Regions from separate parts of the Homo sapiens genome. Here all the other regions are linked to region 2. Evidence: fine-mapped expression QTL. A gene starts in region 2. Each other region holds a variant in brackets. All regions are shown on one strand. Distances are from middle to middle. Region 1 holds the start of LOC124903396 (a long non-coding RNA gene). Region 2 holds the start of AKT1 (AKT serine/threonine kinase 1). Region 3 has its middle 15 kb from the start of VESTAR. Region 4 holds the start of LOC107987209 (a long non-coding RNA gene).

Region 1 (5,000 bases), 61 kb after region 2:
TGGTGATGGATGCAAAACACATTCCTCGGTATTTAAGGAGCTGGAAATTGATGTCCCTGCAGAAACCTGCGCGTAGATGTGCAGCTCTATTCATAATCGCCGAAACTCGGCAGCAGTCAAGAGGCCCATCAGTAAACAAAAGGAGAAATCAACTGTGGTCCATCCAGACAGTGGAGTATTATTCAACACTGAAAAGAAATGAGCTTTCAAGCCATGAAAAGACATAGAGGAAAGTTAAATGCATGTTACTGAGTGAAAGAAGCCAATCCGAAAAGGCGACATACTGTACAATTCCAACTCTGAGATTCTGGAAAAGGCAAAACTGAGGAGACAGCATAAGGTGAGTGGCTGCCGAGGGTTGAGGGGGGAGAGATGAATGAAATGGGTGGAGCTCGGGGGTTTTAGGACAGTAAAAAATTCTGTACGATACTATAGTGGCAGATACACAGCATACGTTTGTCCAGACTGGTAGAATGTACAGCACCAAGTGTGAACCCAGAGGTGACTATGTACTCTGGGTGATCATGACCTGTCAGTGTAGGTTCATCGATTGTCACAAATGCACCGCTCTGGTGGGGCATGGTGGCTCATGCCTATAATCCCAACATTTTGTGATGCTGAGGCAGGAGGATTGCCTGAGGCCAGGAGTTGGAGGCCAGCCTGGGTAACACAGCAAGACTCCATTTCTAAAAAAAAAAAAATGCATATATATATATATATATATATATATATATATCAGCTAGGTGCGGTGGCATAAGCCTGTAGTCCTGGCTACTTGGGAGACAGAGGCAGGGGGATCCCCTGGGCCCAGTAGGTTGAGGCTGCAGTGAGCCAGGACTGTGCCATTGCATTCCAGCCTGAGTGACACAGCCAGACCCTGTCTCAAAATAAACAAAAAACAAAAAAACACAAATACACTCCTGAGCTCTAAACCCCTTGCTTGAAGATGAAGCCTTCAGAAACCCCTGCTGCCTCCCCAAGGAACCCCTTTCCCTTTGCCAGTTCCCGCTGAGGCTGGCCATGGCACAGGCTCAGCTGAGGGAGACGGGACTTCAGTCCAGACGAGAGTGACCCGGAGACGACGCAAGCCATGGTGAGCACAAAAGGTCACCCAAATGCCACGGCATCCTGAAATAAACACGCGGCAGAGGCCCGGAGTGTTGCAAGCTCAGGGTGTCTGTGTGAGCCCTGGCACGTCCTGCCGCTTGCTAAGCGGTGCCTCTTTGGCCTTGTTTCCTGCCATGTGGGGCCCAGGGCTGGGCAGGACGAGGCTGGCGGCTGGAGAAGGGCTTCCTGCAGCACAACCCGGAGCGGCCAGCCAGCGCTACTGCCCAGTCTGCCAGGGCTAGGGGCTCCTGCGACATGGCGGGCAGGCCACCTCACTGCTTAGGGCCTCCCTGCTGTGAACTAGGGACCGCCCCCACACTGTCCTGGCCCCACTGCTGGGAGGGCCAGGGACTGGGTCTGCACCCCAGGGGATGGTCTTGGGTGAGTCACTCCAGCTCAGCCCCTGACCACACATGGCCCCTGCGGCAGCCACCTCCGCGCTATCTTCCTCCCTCTGCTCACATTGAATGGGTCCAGGCCCATGCATCTGCTGGGCACACACCTGAGGCGCCTGACCCCCACTTCCTGACGGGCTGGGAAGGGGTCAGATACATCACAAGGATGGCCTTGCTGAAGTCTGGAAACAGCTGGAAGGGAAAGTACAAGAAGGGGCCTGGCTGGCTTGGCCACTGGGATCAGGAAAAGCTTCTCTGAGCAAGGGGGTTTTGGGCTAAGAGCTGAGGCCAGGGTGCACAGAGCAGGCTTCTGACCGAGAGAAGGAGGGAAAGAGCCACGGAACCCTGGGGACAGAGGTGGCTCGCCTCTTGGAGCACTGAGTGGTCACAGGTGGCTGCAGGGGAGGAGCTGTGTCCGGACCCAGGAGGGGGCAGGCGATGTGGAAGGAGGTCCCTCTGCAGCACGGACTGGGAAGGGGCTGGAACCAGGCCTGCCACGTGGCCACAGCAGCCCAGGCAAGAGGACGGCCACATGGCTCGGCAGGGCCGGGGAGGGCACGGCCTTGTCCACACAGCCTGGTCGCCACGCAGCGAGAAGCCAGGCCTGTCGCAAGCACATACTCACTCACAGGTATGCACATGGAGTCACGGGCACATGGGCGTGTGGTCTCCATGCCCACACAGGAAGTATGTGCATGTGAGGGATCAGGGATCAGGGATCAGGGATCAGGCACTCCCGCTCCTGCGCGGTGGATGTGACTCTGCCCCTCCTCCCATCAGCCCTGTGTCCTCTCAGCTGCGTTCCCAGCCCAGGCCCGGGCTATGCAGGTTTCTGTGCACCAGTGCCTGGTGGGGC[A/G]GGTGGAGGCTGGGGTCCAGCCTACTGCTAGAGCAGTCATCACCAGGCTCTGGTGCCCCGTGCCCCCATGCGTGGGGCTCCTGGGCTGGCTGACACCCCCTTTCCTGCTCACACACAGGTCGGGGCAGGGCACTCACCAATGAAGGACACGGCCTTGGTGTTGATGATGCCGCTGGGCAGCAGGTGGAAGTCGTACTCTTTCCCATCCACCACCACCGTGTGGCCGGCGTTGTTGCCCCCCTGGAACAGAAACCCGGCTGAGCTGAAGGCACTTGGGTACTGAGGACCCCCCGGACATGGACTGACCCACATGGGGCTTCGTCTGTCCCTGCAGGGCACTGCTGTTGGATTTTGGGGTGTCTGGTTTGGTGGCCAGCTCTGATGCGTCTGTGCGGGACTGGGATGTGGGCATCCTGCACCTTGGAAGGAGGGCAGCAGTTTGGTCAGGGGCCTGGGTCGGGGAGGGTCTGGCCCAGGCTGGTGCCAACACCTCCAGGTGGCTTGGTGCAGGTCTCTGCAGCTGCGGGCCCCGCTCTGGAGCTCGCTCCTCTCATGCAGGAATGAGGAGGCCTAACCCTCCCACAGAACATGAATTCAGCACCCCCACGGCCAAACCTGCCCTCACCCACTTTAGCAGAAACCCTTCCCTTTGGGCAGGCACCTCCCGTCTAAGAATGAAAAAGAAAAAGCCATTCTGAGCCAGCCCTGTTCTGGGAAACACCCAGCCACAGGCTCCCCTCTCTGGGGGGATTCCTGCTGATGGTGGGGAGAGGGCCTGGGACTAGCATGTGCAGGCTCCAATCCCCCTCCTGCCATGAGACAGCCACATGATACAAGCAAACTGTGCCACGCCCTGGATGCCACTGCCTTCGCTTCCCCAAGGGCCTCTTGTGCCAGTGGAAGCTAGAGGATAAGCTAGGGACCCTCTCCAGGTGGGGCAAGAACCAAAGCCCTCCTGCCTTTTGCTTGGCTCTGCTCAGCAGGGCACAGGTCCAGTGGGTGTCCCCTGCTGCCCCCACCCTCTGCTCCTGCAGGGCAGGTGGGCTGGTGGCATGATGGATACAGGGACACTCCAGTCCCAAGGCACGGCTGATAGGGCTCCCCTACGTGCAGGCAGGAGGCCCCGCTTCACAGCTGAGGAAGAGGCAGCATCTCTGATGGCCCATGATGGCTCATTGCCCCTGAAGCCAGGCCCCCACCAACGGCAAGGGATATCCCTACAGCACCTTTTGGTCTTTATGCCACCATAAGAGACCCCTGTAGGCCCAGTGTGACAGAGCCTGGAGGGAGCCCCAGAAGGTCTCTGCCCCAGGAGAGAAGGCCAGGTCTCCAGCCCCACTTCTGGCCAGCCACTGGATGGCATGGGGGACCCTTCCTGTTGCCCTCTCTCCTTGAGCTCCACCTGGAGGGTAAGCAGGGTCCCGGTGGGGTTGCGGGGGGCCACACACGGATACCCTGCCCCACAGACTGGTCTGGTCTCTCCTTCACTACTTCCCTTTTGGGGCCCACTCTGTCCCCAGGACCCCAGAGCCCAGATCCAGCCCCACCTTCCTGCCTCACCTCCCGGCAGAAAAGCCCTCAACTTGTCTACGCATGGGGGATTCTCCCAGCCACACCCCACTGCTCTCTGCCCGGCAGAGGGGTCTCAGCTCCCCTCCCACCCTCACAAGCCTGGCAGTGGGGTGTCTCACATAGCCTTTCCCCGCCTGCCCAAGCAGGACCCTCCGTGATGGCGGCCCCCTCCCTCTGCACTAGCTCCTCACGATGCATCTGGACAAGAGTTACACGGAAACAGCCCCGGCGCCTCGTGGCAGGGCAACCCTGGGGACAGAGGGGGGGCAGATCCAGAGATGCCAGGCAGGGGGCTCACCCTCCTGGGACGTAACTTCACACACTGGCAGATTAGGCAGCACTCAGAGCCCTGAAGCCCCTTCGCAGGGCAGGAGTCCCCACCTCCACGCCCTGACTTCTGCCTGGCCCTGCCTGGCTGGGCCCAGTCCTTATAGGAAACCAGTTCAGGACAGTGGCTCTGGGCGGGGCGGTGCTGGGTGAACTGGGTGGGGATCCTGGGAGGTGGAGAGATGCAGGAAGCCTGGTGGCAGGAGGGAGGGTGGTCTGAGGGCACCTGGAGGCCTTGTGGGAGCTAATGCTGCCAGGCGCCAAGGCAGGGTGGGGGTGGAGGGTCAGGGTACTTCTGCAGCCTGGGCGGATGGGCAGGGCTCTCAGCCTGTGCTGCTCAGCAGACGCTGAGTCAGCCCTGGGCGCACAGGTTCAGTCCATCGGGACGGGGCAGGCCCTGGCGTGACTCGAACAGATTCTGGGTTTGGGGGTCACAGCACCCTCCTGGAGACCCCCACTCTTACTCTGTCCTTGCCTCGGCACATATGTGGTAATTCCTCTCCGCTGGGGTCATGGAGTACCTTCATGCCCACGACTGCATCTGCTGCCTTTTGGGGGCAGTCAGGGGTGAGGTCTCTGAGGACAGGTAGGGAAACTGAGAGAAGGGAAGCCTATCCCTTGTACACAGCCCCGCCTGGGCGGGGGGGCAGGCGTCGAGGGATGACCTGGCAGTCAGGCCAAGTGCTGCCTACCATGGCAGAGTGCCCAGTGCCCACGTCAACAGGCCCAGGAACGCCCTGCTA
Region 2 (5,000 bases):
TGCTTAAAAGTTGGCAGGACGCAAGTGGGTGTTCAGTAAATGTTTGTTGAGTGAATGTGTGACGGTTGCTTCTGTGAGTGATTACGATGGTCCCACCATCCCTAATCCTGACTCCTCTGTGGCAACATTCCAGCCCTGCCTGCCCACACCCCCAGCCCCTGAACCTTCAGAGCAAGTAGGGGTGGCCTGCCACACTGGGGCTCTGGGCAACAGGCTGACAGCTCCCCACTGCAGGCTGGGAGCAAGCACCCTAGCCTGCCCTGCCTGGCTGGCGGGACAGAGAGAGCCTGGACACTTAATGGGGGTTGTGGTACACAGGGAGGGTCAGGATGCTGCCTTCAGGAGCCTAGGGTAGGACCTGGAAGGAGGGCCCAGCTAGGAATGGGCTAGATGAAGGGGAGGGGACAGTGGGAGAGAAGCTCCTTATCCCTCTCAGGTCGGGATGTCTGGGTTCAAGTCCCTCCTGCCCCACACCGATCAGGGAAGGGGGGCTGTTCCAGGCAGAGACCGCCCAGAGTTGGTGCTGGGATCCTGGCCAGCCTGTAGTCCTCAGAGCCCCTGTGACTGGCTGGGTCTCAAGTGCAGGAATGACAGGACACCGTCACACAGCCACTGTCGCGGCGGTGGTGGTTCAGGCAGAACCTCTGCAGACTCAGGCGGCCATCTGGCCTGGGAGCTGCCCTGAGGCCCCGCCCTGCAGCTGCTGCTGGGACCTACACAGCCCAGGGCCCTCGAGTCCTGCCCCCGGCCAGCAGCTGCAGAAGGTGACAGGGCAGGAGGCCCCTGAGCTCTGGGAGGAGGCAGCCGTCGGGCCCTTCCCTGGTGCAGCAGTTTTTGTCGGAAACATCTGGCCACAGAGCACCTCAGCAGTCCCAGCAGCAGCCGTGGGGCTGGGTTCTCTCCTGACCATTCTGTCTGGGGTGGGAGGGGGTGTTCTTGAAGAGAGGACTCTGCTTTCCCTCTGGGACGCTGGAGGAGAGGGAGATGGCCCTGCCCACTGGGAGATCCCCGTCTTGGGGGAGGGCAGTTCATGCCAAGGTGAAGACAGGACTGGAGTGTGGGGCCCACAGTGGGTTGCAGGCACCAGCAGATGCCAGGGCACCAGGCTGGGAAGACTGGGAGGCCTCCTTGGAGACAGCCAGTGCAAAATAAGCAAGAGGTCCAACCACTTCAAGAACAGCCCGCAATGTCACTGCCTCTTCCATGAGAGGGTGCCCTGCTCCCTCCCACATCCCCAAGCCTCGGCCACTTGCTGGCCTTGTCTCATGGCCCTCTTACCCTCTGCTTCCTCCCTGAATTCCTTCCTCCATCCTTGCATGGCAGAGCCCAGGATGGTGGACAGATACCAGGAACTCTTCCTCGGGGAGCAGTGGGCAGGTGGGACAGTCCCAGAGGGAGCCCCAGGTGGCTCATGGTGCAGGTTTGCTGGGTGAGAGACAGACACCAGACGCCCAGGCTCTGGGGGCAACCCTTGTGTCAGGTATCCCACCCAAGCGGCGCAGACCACTGGGCCTCTGACTTGGCCCCCTGGAGGTGGGCCCTTCCTGGGGTTACAAAGTCTGAGCTGGGAGGGAGCAGAGGTGCTCAGGCGAGAGGCAGGAATGGGGAGTCCCCTGTCTGAGGAGCGAGTGCCCTCATGCAGGGGGAGAGAGTCCTTCTCTTGGTCAGCCCCAAGAGGCAGGGATGAAGCCCGAGTTTTGGCTGCAGACTCTGTCCTGAGCACTGGGCCGAACCTGCTGCCTCTGTCTGCATCTCCTCCCACCCCCTCCCCTGCTGCCAGCTGAACTCACTCTGGCTGAAAATAAAAATGCTCCCCCAACCCCAATACTTAGCAGCCTCAGGAAGGTAACTCACAAGAGTCTGTCTTTCACAAAAGGGTTATTATCAACTGTGGGCCTCTGGAATGGGGGAGGGGCAGTTGTCGGAGGAACTTCTGGCTAGGAAGGGGTCGGGGTGGCAGTCACCTGCACTCTCCTGTGAGTGTCCAGGAGAAAGGGGTCTGTGTCCCACTTACTCATTCCATACCCGGGCCATCTGCCTCCCAGTGGACTTCGGACTGGGTGTCCGGGCTGACCAAGTCCACCCAGCAGGGAGGGCTCTGGGCTGTCAGCTGTCACAGCCCACCCTAGACACCGCTCCTCCTCTGTCTGGTGTCTGCTCCCAGCTCAAGGTGGGAGCCAGGCAAGGTGTGCCCCTCTTCTCCCACTCCCCAGCAAAGTCCCCCTTTTGTGAGTGTAGCTGCCAGTACCTAGGTGAATGGTTGACTCCCCTCGGAGCCTTCCTGCTCCTTGGAGGCCCACCTCCAACTGACCTCCTGTCCTGGCATCCTCCCGCACTTCCCCCAGAGGCACAAGGTCTTGGGATTGGGCCTTTTAGGTCACTCTTGGCCGCCCCCTCCACGCCCCCCAGAGTGGGGCAGCCTGAAAGTCAACCTAAGCCACCCCCGCCCCGCGCGCGGAGGCAGAAGTCCGGGATTCGTCCCTGACCTGTCTCGGGCCCCTTCTGCTAGGGTCACGGCAGAGCGAGCCCAGAAGCGCCGGGTCACTTTACAGACGGGGAAACTGAGGCCAGAGAGGGCGTGGCCCCGGGACGGGCTGGCTGGTGGCCGGGCTCCGTTAGCGGCCCAGCCCAGGCCCCAGGTCGTCGGGAGCTGCCCCTCAGCCCGGCCGCGCGCTCCCCGAGCGCGCTCCGCCCTCGCCGCCGGCCGCGCGGTGGGGACGCCCCGGGCGGCGGAGGCGGATGTGGGCGGGCGGCTCCGGGCGCGGGGCGGGCGCGGGGCGGGGAGAGGGCGGGCCGGCGGCGGCGGCAGGACCGAGCGCGGCAGGCGGCTGGCCCAGCGCACGCAGCGCGGCCCGAAGACGGGAGCAGGCGGCCGAGCACCGAGCGCTGGGCACCGGGCACCGAGCGGCGGCGGCACGCGAGGCCCGGCCCCGAGCAGCGCCCCCGCCCGCCGCGGCCTCCAGCCCGGCCCCGCCCAGCGCCGGCCCGCGGGGATGCGGAGCGGCGGGCGCCGGAGGCCGCGGCCCGGCTAGGCCCGCGCTCGCGCCCGGACGCGGCGGCCCGGTGAGTCCCCGCCCGCCGTGGCCGCCCGGGCCTGGATTTCCTCCCCGCGGGCCGGGCCGCTTTGTTCGCGGCCGGTCGGGCCGGGGCGCGAGCCGCGGCGCCGCCAGAATGGAGGAGCGGGAGCAGGAAGTGGCCGAGCGGGCCTGGGCGGGGAGGGCGCGGGGCGCGCGGGCCCGGCCAAGGGAGGGCGGCCCCACGCCGGGCGCCGGGGGTGCAGGCTGCCGGCCCCAGCCTCCCTCATGACCTTGGGGAGGCCGCTCCGCCGGGCGAGGCCGGGACCCGAGAGAAGGGACGCCGCCGGGCCTGGAGCTGGGGCTCGGGGTGCCCCTGCGGGCCGTGGGGCTCCCCGGGCGCTGGGCCAGCGAGGCAGCCGGCGGAGGTGCCCCGGGGTTGGAGAAAGACTCGCCGCGGCCGGCCTTCAAGTTTGTGGGAGGGCCCCGGAAGGAGACTTCGTTTCCCACGGACGAAAAGTTGTACGTGGTGGCGGGGTACCCAGGCTAGCCACAAAGGACTGTGACCCTCCTGGGCCCCGGAACTGCTTCCTGTCTTGGGTGGGCCCTGGAGGTCCTGCCCGCCCATCCCAGAGGCCAAGGCTTGGAGGGCAGCTGGGGCTTGCCCCTTAGATTGAGTATCCTGGGGCGCTAGCGAGCTTGGTCCTGTCGGGACGGCCTCTGAGTGCTGCCTTGGTCAGCGGGTGAGCTTGGGCCCCTGCTCTGCAGCCAGAGGCCGCCCCACATTCACTCCTGGGTCTCTCGGCCTTGCTCCAGGTGGCCACTTCTTGACTGCTTTGAGTCCCTCATCCGAGCGAAGGGCGGACGGAGTCCGTTGGTGGGGGTCCGGTTGCCTCTCCCGGGAGCTGTGTAGACTTCTCATACACCAGGGTTCTGGAGGCAGATGGAGGAGCCCTTTCGAAAACAGAGTATTTTTTTTTAAGTTGTGACTTAATAATAGTAGCAAGAATATGTGCTTATGGTAAAGGCAGGCGGCAGGTACGGAGGCTGTGGGAAGTCGGGGTCCCTCCGCCCCCACAGGCAGCCCTGTGCTGGCCTGGTGTATACGTTTCTGTGCAGACGTACACCACCCTGTGTGAGCACAGATGTATTTTTACACATGGCTCTGGACAGCTGTCTGACTCTGTCAGCAGCAGGCCTTGGAGGGGCTCAGGCCCGTGTGGGGGTGGGGGGACATCCAGAGGTCTTTGAGTCCAGCCCTCTGCCTCCAGGCCACGCCCACTCAGTGTCGTCAGAGCCCCCTGTGCCTGAGGCGTGCGCGGCTCGGAGCCCTGCCCTCGGAGTCCTGCGGTGCCTTCCTCGAGTCTGGCCTGCTTTCCATCCTGCTAAGTACTTGGGGCATTTCCCTCTTTGGGTAAGGTGTGGTCTTCCCTGTCCTGGCATTAGACACAAGGCAGTGGGCCTTCCTGCCATTCTAAGTGTAGCTTAAGACAATCAGTGCAAAGCAACCCTTTGTGGGTGTCCAGCCCTTGCCTCGGGAGGCCAGAAAGGTGGCCTGGGGGGAGAGCGTCTAAGCTGGCTGTGGAAAGACCCATGTTGGGATCCATTCCACAGAGGTCGTCAGGGGTCTCTGCCTGGCCTGGAGGTCCCAGAGAGGACCCTCCTCCCCTCAGGAAGGCCCATCTGGAAGGGTAGCAGAGGACTGCTCACAGGAAGAGCATGCGAAGTGCTCTTTCTGGGGATGCCTGTAGTTGGTGATGTGGGAACTGGGTTTTGAGGGATGCCTAGGAGTTCATCCATCAGAGGGGAAATGAGGAAGCCATGCAGGATCAATGGATAAAGTGTGCTCAGGTGAGGGTTGGCTGGTGGGCCGCTGCAGGGCGGGGGCCTGTCCAGTGCTCCCCCACTTACTTGCTGCCTCCCGACTGCTGTAATTATGGGTCTGTAACCACCCTGGACTGGGTGCTCCTCACTGACGGACTTGTC
Region 3 (5,774 bases), 40 kb before region 2:
TATGACAAACCCACAACCAATATCATACTGAATGGGCAAAAACTGGAAGCATTCCCTTTGAAAACCGGCACAAGACAAGGATGCCCTGTCTTACCACTCCTATTCAACATAGTGTTGGAAGTTCTGGCCAGGGCAATCAGGCAAGAGAAAGAAATAAAGGGTATTCAATTAGGAAATGAGGAAGTCAAATTGTCCCTGTTTGCAGATGACATGATTGTATATTTAGAAAACCCCATCATCTCAGCCCAAAATCTCCTTAAGCTGATAAGCAACTTCAGCAAAGTCTCTGGATACCAAATCGATGTGCAAAAATCACAAGCATTCCTATACATCATTAACAGACAAACAGAGAGTCAAATCATAAGTGAACTCCCATTCACAACTGCTACAAAGAGAATAAAATACCTAGGAATCCAACTTACAAGGGATGTGAAGGACCTCTTCAAGGAGAACTACAAACCACTGCTCAACGAAATAAAAGAGGACACAAACAAATGGAAGAATATTCCATGCTCATGGATAGGAAGAATCAATATCATGAAAATGGCCATATTGCCCAAAGTAATTTATAGATTCAATGCCATCCCCATCAAGCTACCAATGACTTTCTTTACAGAATTGGAAAAAACTACTTTAAAGTTCATATGGAACCAGAAAAGAGCCTGCATTGCCAAGACAATCCTAATTAAAAAGAACAAAGCTGGAGGCATCACGCTACCTGACTTCAAACTATACTACAAGGCTACAGTAACCAAAACAGCATGGTACTGGTACCAAAACAGATATATAGACCAATGGAACAGAACAGAGCCCTCAGAAATAACGCCGCATATCTACAACTATCTGATCTTTGACAAACCTGAGAAAAACAAGCATTGGGGAAAGGATTCCCTATTTAATAAATGGTGCTGGGAAAACTGGCTAGCCATATGTAGAAAGCTGAAACTGGATCCGTTCCTTACACCTTACACAAAAATTAATTCAAGATGGATTAAAGACTTAAATGTTAGACCTAAAACCATAAAAACCCTAGAAGAACACCTAGGCAGTACCATTCAGGACATAGGCATGGGCAAGGACTTCATGACTAAAACACCAAAAGCAATGGCAACAAAAGCCAAACTAGACAGATGGGATCTAATTAAACTAAAGAGCTTCTGCATGGCAAAAGAAACTACCATCAGTGTGAACAGGCAACCTACAGAATGGGAGAAAATTTTTGCAATCTACCCATATGACAAAGGGCTAATATCCAGAATCTACAAAGAACTCAAACAAATTTACAAGAAAAAAACAAATAACCCCATTAAAAAGTGGGCAAAGGATATCAACAGACACTTCTCAAAAGAAGACATTTATGCAGCCAACAGACACATGAAAAAATGCTCACCATCACTGGCCATCAGAGAAATGCAAATCAAAACCACAATGAGATACCATCTCACACCAGTTAGAATGGTGATCATTAAAAAGTCAGGACACAACAGGTGCTGGAGAGGATGTGGAGAAATAGAAACACTTTTACACTGTTGGTGGGAGTGTAAACTAGTTCAACCATTGTGGAAGACAGTGTGGTGATTCCTCAAGGATCTAGAACTAGAAATACCATTTGACCCAGTGATCCCATTACTGGGTATATACCCAAAGGATTATAAATCATGTTACTATAAAGACACATGCACACGTATGTTTATTGTGGTACTATTCACAATAGCAAAGACTTGGAACCAACCCAAATATCCATCAATGATAGACTGGATTAAGAAAATGTGGCACATATACACCATGGAATACTATGCAGCCATAAAAGAGGATGAGTTCATTTCCTTTACAGGGACATGAATGAAGCTGGAAACCATCATTCTCAGCAAACTATCACAAGGACAGAAAACCAAACACCACATGTTCTCACTCATAGGTGGGAATTGAACAATGAGATCACTTGAACACAAGGCGAGGAACATCACACACTGGGGCCTGTTGGGGGTTGGGGGGCTGGAGGGGGATAGATAGCATTAGGAGAAATACCTAATGTAAATGACGAGTTGATGGGTGCAGCACACCAACATGGCACATGTATACCTATGTATCAAACCTGCACGTTGTGCACATGTACCCTGGAACTTAAAGTATAATAAAAAAATTTAAAAAACAATAAAAAGAATTTTTAAAAAGAGTAGAATGGCGCTTCTTGTCTGAGAAAACACCAAATGGCGGATGACGCCGGTGCAGGGGGGGGGGGGGGGGGTGCCGGAGGCCCTGGTGGCCCTGGGATGGGGAACCGTGGTGCCTTCCGCGGAGGTTTCGGCAGTGGCATCCGGGGCCGGGGTCGCGGCCGTGGACGGGGCCAGGGCCAAGGCTGCGGAGCTCGCGGAGGCAAGGCTGAGGATAAGGAGTGGATGCCTGTCACCAAGCTGGGCCGCTTGGTCAAGGAGATGAAGATCAAGTCCCTGGAGGAGATCTATCTCTTTTCCCTGCCCATTAAGGAATCTGAGATCATTGACGTTTTCCTGGGGGCCTCTCTCAAGGATGAGGTTTTGAAGATTATGCTGGTGCAGAAGCAGACCCGTGCCGGCCAGCGCACCAGGTTCAAGGCGTTCTTTGCTATCGGAGACTACAATGGCCACGTCGGTCTGGGTGTTAAGTGCTCCAAGGAGGTGGCCACCGCCATCCGTGGGGCCATCATCCTGGCCAAGCTCTCCATTGTCCCTGTGCACAGAGGCTACTGGGGGAACAAGATCGGCAAGCCCCACACCGTCCCTTGCAAGGTGACAGGCCGCTGCGGCTCTGTGCCGGCGCGCCTCATCCCTGCACACGGGGGCACTGGCATCGTCTCCGCACCTGTGCCCAAGAAGCTGCTCATGATGGCTGGTATCGATGACTGCTACACCTCAG[C/T]CCGGGGCTGCACTGCCACCCTGGGCAACTTCGCCAAGGCCACCTTTGATGCCATCTCTAAGACCTACAGCTACCTGACCCCCAACCTCTGGAAGGAGACTGTATTCACCAAGTCTCCCTATCAGGAATTCACTGACCACCTCGTCAAGACCCACACCAGAGTCTCCGTGCAGTGGACCCAGGCTCCTGCTGTGGCTACAACATAGGGTTTTTATACAAGAGAAGTAAAGTGAATTAAGCCTGAAAAAAAAAAAAAGAGTAGAATGGCAACTCACAAAATGAGATATTTGCAAATCCTATATCTGATAGGATATTAATATGCAGCATATTAGAATTGCTGTAACTCCGAAACAAAAACTCCCTAAACAACCTAATTTACAAATAAACAAAGTACTTGAATGGACCTTTCCCCAAAGAAGACAGATAAATGGTCAACAAGCACACACAAAAAATGTTCAACATCATCAGTCACTAGGGAGATGCAAAATAAAACCACAATGAAATACCATGTCACACCCATTGGGATGGCTATAATTTTTTCAAAAGAAGCAAAATAACAAATGCTGGTAAGGGTAGTAAGAAATTAAAACCCTTGGCCGGGCACAGTGGCTCATGCCTGTAATCCCAGCACTTTGCGAGGCGAGCGGATCACGAGGTCAGGAGATCGAGACCATCCTGGCTAACACGTGAAACCCCGTCTCTACTAAAAAATACAAAAAATTAGCCGGACGTGGTGGCGGGCACCTGTAGTCCCAGCTACATGGGAGGCTGAGGCAGGAGAATGGCGTGAACCTGGGAGGCGGAGCTTGCAGTGAGCCGAGATGGGGCCACTGCACTCCAGCCTGGGCTACAGAGCAAGACTCCGTCTCAAAAAACAAAGAAACAAAAAAAGAACTGAAAAGGAGGAATCACACAGATACTTGCTCACCGATGTTCATAACGCATTATTTACAATAGCCAAATGTGGAAACAAGCCAAGTATCCATCAACAGATAAAAGAATAAACAAAATGTGGTCTAAACACATAAATGGAATATGCTTCAGCCATAAGAAGGAATGAAGTTCTGAGGCATGCTACAATATGGGAGAATTTGAAAACATTCTACTAAGTGAAATAAGCCAGACATTAAAGTTCCAATATTATATGATTCCACTTATATGACACATCTGGAATAGGCAAGTTTATAGAGACAGAAACTAGAATAGAGGTTACCAGGCCTAGAGGGAAGGGAGGGAGAGGGACTTATTGCTTAATGGGCACAGAATTTGGGATGACAAAAAAGTTCTGGAAATAGTGGTGATGATTACATAACATTGTGGATGTACTTAATGCCACTAAATTGTACACTTAAAACGGTTATAGTGGTAAATTTTTGTTTGTTTGTTTGGTTTTGAGATGGAGTCTCGCTCTGTCGCCCAGGCCACGGTGCAGTGGCACAATCTCAGCTCACTACAGCCTCCACCTCCTGGGTTTAAGCAATTCCCCCTGCCTCAATCTCCCAAGTAGCTGGGGTTACAGGCGCTCGCCACCACGCCTGGCTAATTTTTTTTGTATTTTTTAGGAGGGACGGGGTTTCACCATGTTGGCCAGGCTGGTCTTGAACTCCTGACCTCAGGTGATCAGCCCACCTTGGCCTCCCAAAGTGCTGGGATTACAGGCGTGACCCACCACGCCTGGGCAAAATTTATGTTATGTAAATTTTACCTCAATAAAACATAAATTTGAAAATATATATAGCAAAAGAAATGACAAAAGAATTAAATGGAGGCTGGCCGTGGTGGCTCACGCCTGTAATCCCAGCACTTTGGGAGGCCAAGGCAGGTGGATCACGAGGTCAGGAGTTCGAGACCAGCCTAACCAATATGGAGAAAACCCGTCTCTACTAAAAATACAAAAAAAAATTAGCCAGGGGTGGTGGCACCCACCTGTAGTCCCAGCTACTCGGGAGGCTGAAGCAGAAGAATTGCATGAACCTGGGAGGTGGAGCTTGCAGTGAGCCAAGATTGTGTCACTGCACTCCAGCCTGGGCAACAGAGCGAGACTCTGTCTCAAAAAAAAAAAAAAAAAAAGAATTAAATGGCACATTAGAGAATATATATTTAACACAAAAGAAGCAATATGGAGGAATAGAGGAGGAACAAAACAGGCAAGACAGAGAGAAAACAAATAGCACAATGGCAGACCTCAATCCCACCACTGGTAATTATAGTAAATATTAATATATTAAACACTAATTAAAAGAAAAAGATTGGCAGAATAGATTTAAAAAACATAATCCAACTATATCTGCTAGGTATAAAACATGATGGCTACTAGAGACACAGTTTAGATTCAGACACAATATCTTAAAAGTAAAATGACAGGAGGCCGGGCGCGGTGGCTCATGCCTGTAATACCAGCAATTTGGGAGGCCGAGGCGGGCGGATCATGAGGTCAGGAGATCGAGACTATCCTGGCTAACACGGTGAAACCCCGTCTCTACTAAAAATACAAAAATTAGCTGGGCGTGGTGGCGGGCACCTGTAGTCCCAGCTACTCGGGAGGCTGAGGCAGGAGAATGGCGTGAACCTGGGAGGCAGAGCTTGCAGGGAGCCAAGATTGCACCACTGCACTCCAGCCCGGGCGACAGAGCGAGACTCCGTCCAAAAAACAAAGTAAAATGACAGGAAAAGATATAACATTCAAACAGCAACTCAAAGAGAGGTGGAGTTCCTCTACTAATATTAGAAAATATAGATATTAAGACAAAAATTATTGTTAGAGACAAAGAAGGATGTGTTATAATGATAAGAGGGTGATCCATAAGGAAGATATAATAACTAGAAACACATATGCACTGGCTGGGCACGGTGGCTCATGCCTGTAATCTCAGCACTTT
Region 4 (5,774 bases), 31 kb after region 2:
GCTGAGAAGCATGGGCTGCTTCTCCCAGCACGGCCCCCTCTGACAATATAGGATTGCCTTAGGGCCATTTCTTACCTTTTTTATGGTAGAGATAGGGTCTCGCTATGTTGTTCAGGCCGGTCTTGAACTCCGGGCCTCAAGTGATCCTCCTGCCTTGTCCTCCCAAAACGTTGGGATTATAAGGTGTGAGCCACCACACCTGGCCTCTTAGGGATAGTTCTATAGTCCAGAGAGAGAGAGGCTTCAACGTCATTGGCATTAATACAGACATGACCCTGTGTTATGTCCCCGTTACAAGTGGCTGAGGACCTAACAAAATGAACGCAGAAATGGAGACCCTCTGAGAATTTCCCGACCCTCCTAGCAGCCCCAGACAGAACCATCTACAGCAGGAGGCAGCATCCCAGGAGTGGGGTGGAGGGTGTCAGTGAGGGGTGAGATGTGCAAGGAGATGCACATCTCAGAGAGGAAACTCCAGGAGGTGCAGGTGCCCTTGCAAGGGGCAGTCCAGTCCTGGCCAGCGAGGCCAGAGCGGGTGGAGAGGGCCAGGATCCTGCAGCCCCAACAGGGCCTGCCGAACAGCGAGGGCTGTCTGGAGAGGTTGTAACAGGAATACGCCAACCAAGAGGAAGCTCTCCTTCCTGTGTCAGAGGTACCCCGAAGGAAACAATGCATAAAGTGTCCATTTCCAAGACAAAGTGCCTAAAATCAGCTTAGGTCAGCAAACTACGGAAGCAACAGGATATACTAGGCCCCTGCTTGGATAGCCAACGCCTGTTTGTCACCGCCAGCCCCCGTCCCTTAGTTTCCCTCACCTGAACCAAAGTTTAGTCTAAAATGAAAGTTTACTAGCCTCCAAAATAGCTCGCTTTGTCTGTTCGTATCAGCCTGCCCAGCTACTTAGGTCAGAAGTCAAATATTTGAAGAGCCCCTGAGCTAACTAGGATTGCAATGCATTGTGGGCTGCAACAGAATGCAGCAAGACAACTCTAAAGAAAACACCTAAAGCCCCTGCCCAACAACCAATAGGTGACGTCCAGGAAGGTTGTGACCCCATAGTACTCAGCCTATGAAGAACCGGGGGAGGGACCTGCACACTAGGGGATAAATTGCTTGTTGAAACTGTGCTGGGTGTGCCAGCTCATCAGGCACCCAATCTTGCAAGACTATCATTAAAAGTCTCACTTTTGCTGTTCTCCGGTCTCTGAGGTCTCTGAGTCCATTCTTCGGGTGTGGATGGGTGAGTTTGTTTCTCACATGCCCACATCATGCTCTTTCCAGCACAAGGCCGGCCTGGAAGGGAGGAAGATAATAAAAGTGACTTGAGCACTTAGACCTCCCATGTTTCAGCAGGTGTGGGTAACTGAAGGCTCTGCAGGTCTCTGGGTCTGGGGGCCTCAATGTTGTAGACGAGGTCCCAGGAGCTGAGAGTGCTACTGGGGCATGTCAGGATAAGGGCTAGGCCTGCCTTCCCAGAAGATGTCACTTCCAGTGAATGTCTGTTCAAAGGCTGACTTTATCATACAACAGATAATTATTTCATCCTTTTGCTTCTAGCAAGTCTGGGAAAGAGCTACAGAAGGGGCTGACAGCATGTAGGGTTTTTGTTGTTATTTAAAAAAAAAAGTCTAACAATCATTGCCCATTAATTAAGGTGTCTAGACCATTTACATTTAATGCAACTATTGATATGGTTGAGCTTAAATGTACTATCTTGCTCTTTTTCTATACATTCCATTTGTTCTTTGTTCCTCCTTTCCTTTCCTTTTTTTGTATTAAATAAGTATTGCCGATTGTCTCATTTTATCTCCTTTATTGGCTTATTTTTTGGATTTTACCAGTTTTCCCACTGATGTTCTTTTTCTATTCCAGTATACACATACAATCCAGGATACTGTGTTGCATTTAGAATAAATATATTTTGAATAAATGAATGAATGTAGCTCCCCAGCCCTCTGGGGATTTCATATACGTGAGATCATGCAGTGTTTGTCTTTTTGTGTCTGGCTTATTTCACTCAGTCATAGTATCTTTAAGGTTCATTTGTGTTGTAGCATGTCAGAATTTTATTTCTTTTTAAGGCTGAATACTATTTTATTGCATGTATAGACCACATTTTGTTTATTCATTTGTCCTGTGATGAACATTTGGGTTGTTTCCATCTTTTGGCTACTGGGGATAATGCTGCTACAAACTTGTGTACAAATACCTGTTCACGTCCCTGCTGTCAATTATTTTGTGTCTGTACCCAGAAGTGGAATTGCTGGATCAAACAGTAATTCTGTGTTCAGTTTTAATTTTCCTTTCATTTTTTTGAGACATAGTCTCACTATGTTGCCCAGGCTGGTCTCAAACTCCTGGGCTCAAGTGATCCTCCTGTCTCAGCCTTCCAAACCACTAGGATTACAGGCATTAGCCACTGTGCCAGGCTTATGTTTAGTGTTTTGAGGAACTGCCTACTGTTTTCTGCACTGGCTGCACCATTTCACATTCCCACCGGCAGTGCACAAATGTTCCAATTTCTCCATATCCTCCCCGACACTTGTTTTATTTTCAAATAGTAGCTATCTTGATGGGTGTGAGGTGGTATCTCATTGTGGTTTTGATTTGCATTTCCCTGATAATCAGTGATGTTGAGCATCTTTTCATGTGTGTGCTGTTTTTATATATTCTTTGGACAAATGTTTACTCAAGTCCTTTGCCCATTTTTGGATTTTTTTTTTAATTGCTGCGTGTTAGGAGTTCTTTATGTATAGATGGTCCCTGACTTACAATGGTTAAACTTATAATTTTTCAACTTTACAATGTTGCAAAAGCTATACACATTCAGTATGCTCCTTAACAATATTTTCTTTTTTTTTTTTTTTTTTTTTTTTGAGACGGAGTCTCGCTCTGTCACCCAGGCTGGAGTGCAGTGGCGCGATCTCGGCTCACTGCAAGCTCTGCCTCCTGGGTTCATGCCATTCTCCTGCCTCAGCCTCCCGAGTAGCTGGGACTACAGGAGCCTGCCAACACGCCCGGCTAATTTTTTGTATTTTTAGTAGACACGGGGTTTCACTGTGTTAGCCAGGATGGTCTCTATCTCCTGACCTCGTGATCCACCCGCCTCGGCCTCCCAAAGTGCTGGGATTACAGGCATGAGCCACTGCGCCTGGCCCTTAACAATATTTTCAACTCGTGATGGATTTATCTGGATGTAACCCATTGTAAGCTGAGGAGCATC[T/C]GTATAGACAATTAAAAAAAATTTTTTTTTTTCTTTGAGACAGAGTCTCGCTCTGTCACCCAGGCTGGAGTGCAATGGCGCGATCTAGGCTCACTGCAACCTCTGCCTCCGAGGTTCAAGCGATTCTCCTGCCTCAGCCTCCTGAGTAGCTGGGATTACAGGCGCCCACCACCATGCCCAGCTAATTTTTTTTTTTTTGTATTTTTAGTACAGACAGGGTTTTACCATGTTGGTCAGGCTGGTCTCGAACTCCTGACCTCAGGTGATCTGCCAGCATCAGCCTCCCAAAGTGCTGGGATTACAGGCATGAGCCACCACGCCTGGCCTTTTTTAAAATTAAGATAGTCTTGCTCTGTTGCCCAGGCTGGAGTGCAATGGCGCGATCTCGGGTCACTGCAACCTCTGCCTCCTGGGTTCAAGGGATTCTCCTGCCTCAGCCTCCTCAATAGCTGGGATTACAGGCGTGCGCCGCCACCACACCTGGCTAATTTTTGTATTTTTAGTAGAGATGGGTTTTTGCCATGTTGGCCAAACCTTGAACTCCTGACCTCAGGTGATTCGCCTGCCTCAGCCTCCCAAAGTGTTGGAATTACAGGTGTGAACCACTGCAGCTGGCCTAGGCAATTGTCTTTTAAAGAGATTATATATATACATATTTAAAGACAGGGTCAGCTGGGCGCAGTGGCTCATGCCTGTAATCCCAGCACTTTGGGAGGCCGAGGTGGGCAGATCACGAGGTCAGGAGATTGAGACCATCCTGGCTAACACGGTGAAACCTCGTCTCTACTAAAAATACAAAAAATTCACCGAGCGTGGTGGCGGGCACCTGTAGTCCCAGCTACTCAGGAGGCTGAGGCAGGAGAATGGCATGAACCCGGGAGGCAGAGCTTGCAGTGAGCCGAGATCAGGCCACTGCACTCCAACCTGGGTGACAGAGCAAGACACTGTCAAAAAAAAAAATAATAAATAAAATAAAATAAAGACAGGGTCTTGCCATGTTGCCCAGGCTGGCTTTGAACCCCTATCAAGTGATTCTCCCAGCTTAATCTCCTGAGTAGCTGGGACAACAGGCACTTTTAAAAATCAGAAAAAACCCTGCCTTTTGTGTCCTCCCAAACAGTGACCATTTCAGGTGCTCGTCATATCTTTGTGTACAAGCAGTTTCCATCTGGTGTCATTTTCCTTCTGCCAGAAAAACTTCTTTTGACAATTTTTGTAAATCTTCCAGCTTTGTATGTCTGAAAAGTCTTTATTTCACCTTCACTTTTGAAAGATATTTTCACTGGGTATAGAATTCCAGGTTGACATTCTTTTCTTTCAAAACTAAATTTGGATAAATGTTTATTCAAGCTGGGCTTGGGATTACAAATCCCAGCACTTTGGGAGGCTGAGGTAGGCAGATCACCTGAGGTTGGGAGTTTGAGACCAGCCTAACCGACATAGAGAAACCCCGTCTCCACTAAAAATACAAAATTAGGCAGGCATGGAGGCGCATGCCTGAAATCCCAGCTATTTGGGAGGCCGAGGCAGGCGAATTGCTTGAACCAGGGAGGCGGAGGTTGTGGTGAGGCGAGATCGTGCCACCGCACTCCAGCCTGGGCAACAAGAGCGAAACTCCATCTCAAAAAAATAAATAAATAAGTTTATTCAAGTTCTTTGCCCAACCCACAGGTGTTGTTCACTGTCTGCTTGCAGTTTCTAGTGAGAAGTCTTGCTGCCATTCTTTGTTCCTGTAAACACAAAGTGTCTTTTTTCTCTGGCTGCTTTTTTTTATTTGTCACTGGTTTGGAGGAATTTCATGATGATGTGCTTCATGTAATTTTCTCCATGTTTCTTTTGGGGTTTGTTGAGCTTCCTGGATCTGTGGCTTTATGTTTCCACCAAATTAGGAAATTTTACAGTCATTATTTTATTTATTTATTTATTTAGAGATGGAGTTTCGCTCTTGTTGCCCAGGCTGGAGTGCAATGGCACAATCTCAGCTTGCTGCAACCTCCGCCTCCCGGGTTCAAGCGATTCTCCTGCCTCAGCCTCCCAAGTAGCTGGGATTATAAGCACCTGCCACCACGCCTGGCTAATTTTTGCATTTTTAGTAGAGACAGGGTTTCACCATGTTGGCCAGGCTGGTCTCAAACTCCTGACCTCTGGTGATCCGCCAGCATCAGCTTCCCAAAGTGTTGAGATTACAGGCGTGAGCCACCACGCCCGGCCTGCCGTTATTTTTTCCAAAAGTTGTCTCCACCCTGCTATGCCCCTCGTCCATGGGTCTCCAGTTAAAGGCACAGTAGGCTGCTTGAAGTGGTCCCACAACTCAGAGGGGCTCTGCCATTTTCCTCATTTTTTTTCTGTTCCCTTTTGGATAGCTTATATTGCAATGGCTTCAAGTCCACTAATTTTTTGCTCTGCAATGTCTATTTTGGTTTTAATCTCATCAGTGTATTTTCCATCTCAGACATTGTATTTTTGTCTCTGGAAATTGTTTGGGCCATTTTTATGTCTTTCATTCCTTTTCTTAACATGCTCCTGTTTTCGTCTATCCTTCTTAATAATG

The links. PIP is the estimated chance that this variant, and not a neighbour inherited with it, causes the effect.
Region 1: its variant is the best candidate, but not a certain one, in a credible set for the expression of AKT1 in nasal epithelium (TOPMed, PIP 0.77).
Region 3: its variant is the best candidate, but not a certain one, in a credible set for the expression of AKT1 in whole blood (INTERVAL, PIP 0.57).
Region 4: its variant is the best candidate, but not a certain one, in a credible set for the expression of AKT1 in lung (TOPMed, PIP 0.70).

Annotation. Positions count from the first base shown.
Region 1 is chr14:104,732,618-104,737,617 of GRCh38, reverse strand. It overlaps ADSS1 (adenylosuccinate synthase 1), which reads right to left. Exons shown (of 13, transcript NM_152328.5): 2 at 2,496-2,598. It overlaps LOC124903396 (a long non-coding RNA gene), which reads left to right and starts at 104. Exons shown (of 3, transcript XR_007064365.1): 1 at 104-340; 2 at 1,003-1,093; 3 at 2,477-3,050. The variant A/G (reference allele first, on the strand shown) is at 2,359.
Region 2 is chr14:104,793,547-104,798,546 of GRCh38, reverse strand. It overlaps AKT1 (AKT serine/threonine kinase 1), which reads left to right and starts at 2,799. Exons shown (of 15, transcript NM_001382430.1): 1 at 2,799-3,063. RefSeq lists enhancers at 105-877, 878-1,650, 3,692-4,333, 4,334-4,973, 4,974-5,000 and silencers at 2,488-2,847, 3,028-3,077, 3,108-3,427.
Region 3 is chr14:104,833,321-104,839,094 of GRCh38, reverse strand. It overlaps the pseudogene RPS2P4. Among named protein-coding and RNA genes, the nearest start is that of VESTAR, 15 kb to the right of the region's middle. RefSeq lists a silencer at 3,335-3,603. The variant C/T (reference allele first, on the strand shown) is at 2,896.
Region 4 is chr14:104,762,309-104,768,082 of GRCh38, reverse strand. LOC107987209 (a long non-coding RNA gene) reads left to right here and starts at 1,134. Exons shown (of 3, transcript XR_001750915.3): 1 at 1,134-1,240. It overlaps LOC102723342 (a long non-coding RNA gene), which reads right to left and starts at 3,268. Exons shown (of 3, transcript XR_429419.5): 1 at 1,186-3,268; 2 at 76-219. RefSeq lists an enhancer at 1-536. The variant T/C (reference allele first, on the strand shown) is at 3,224.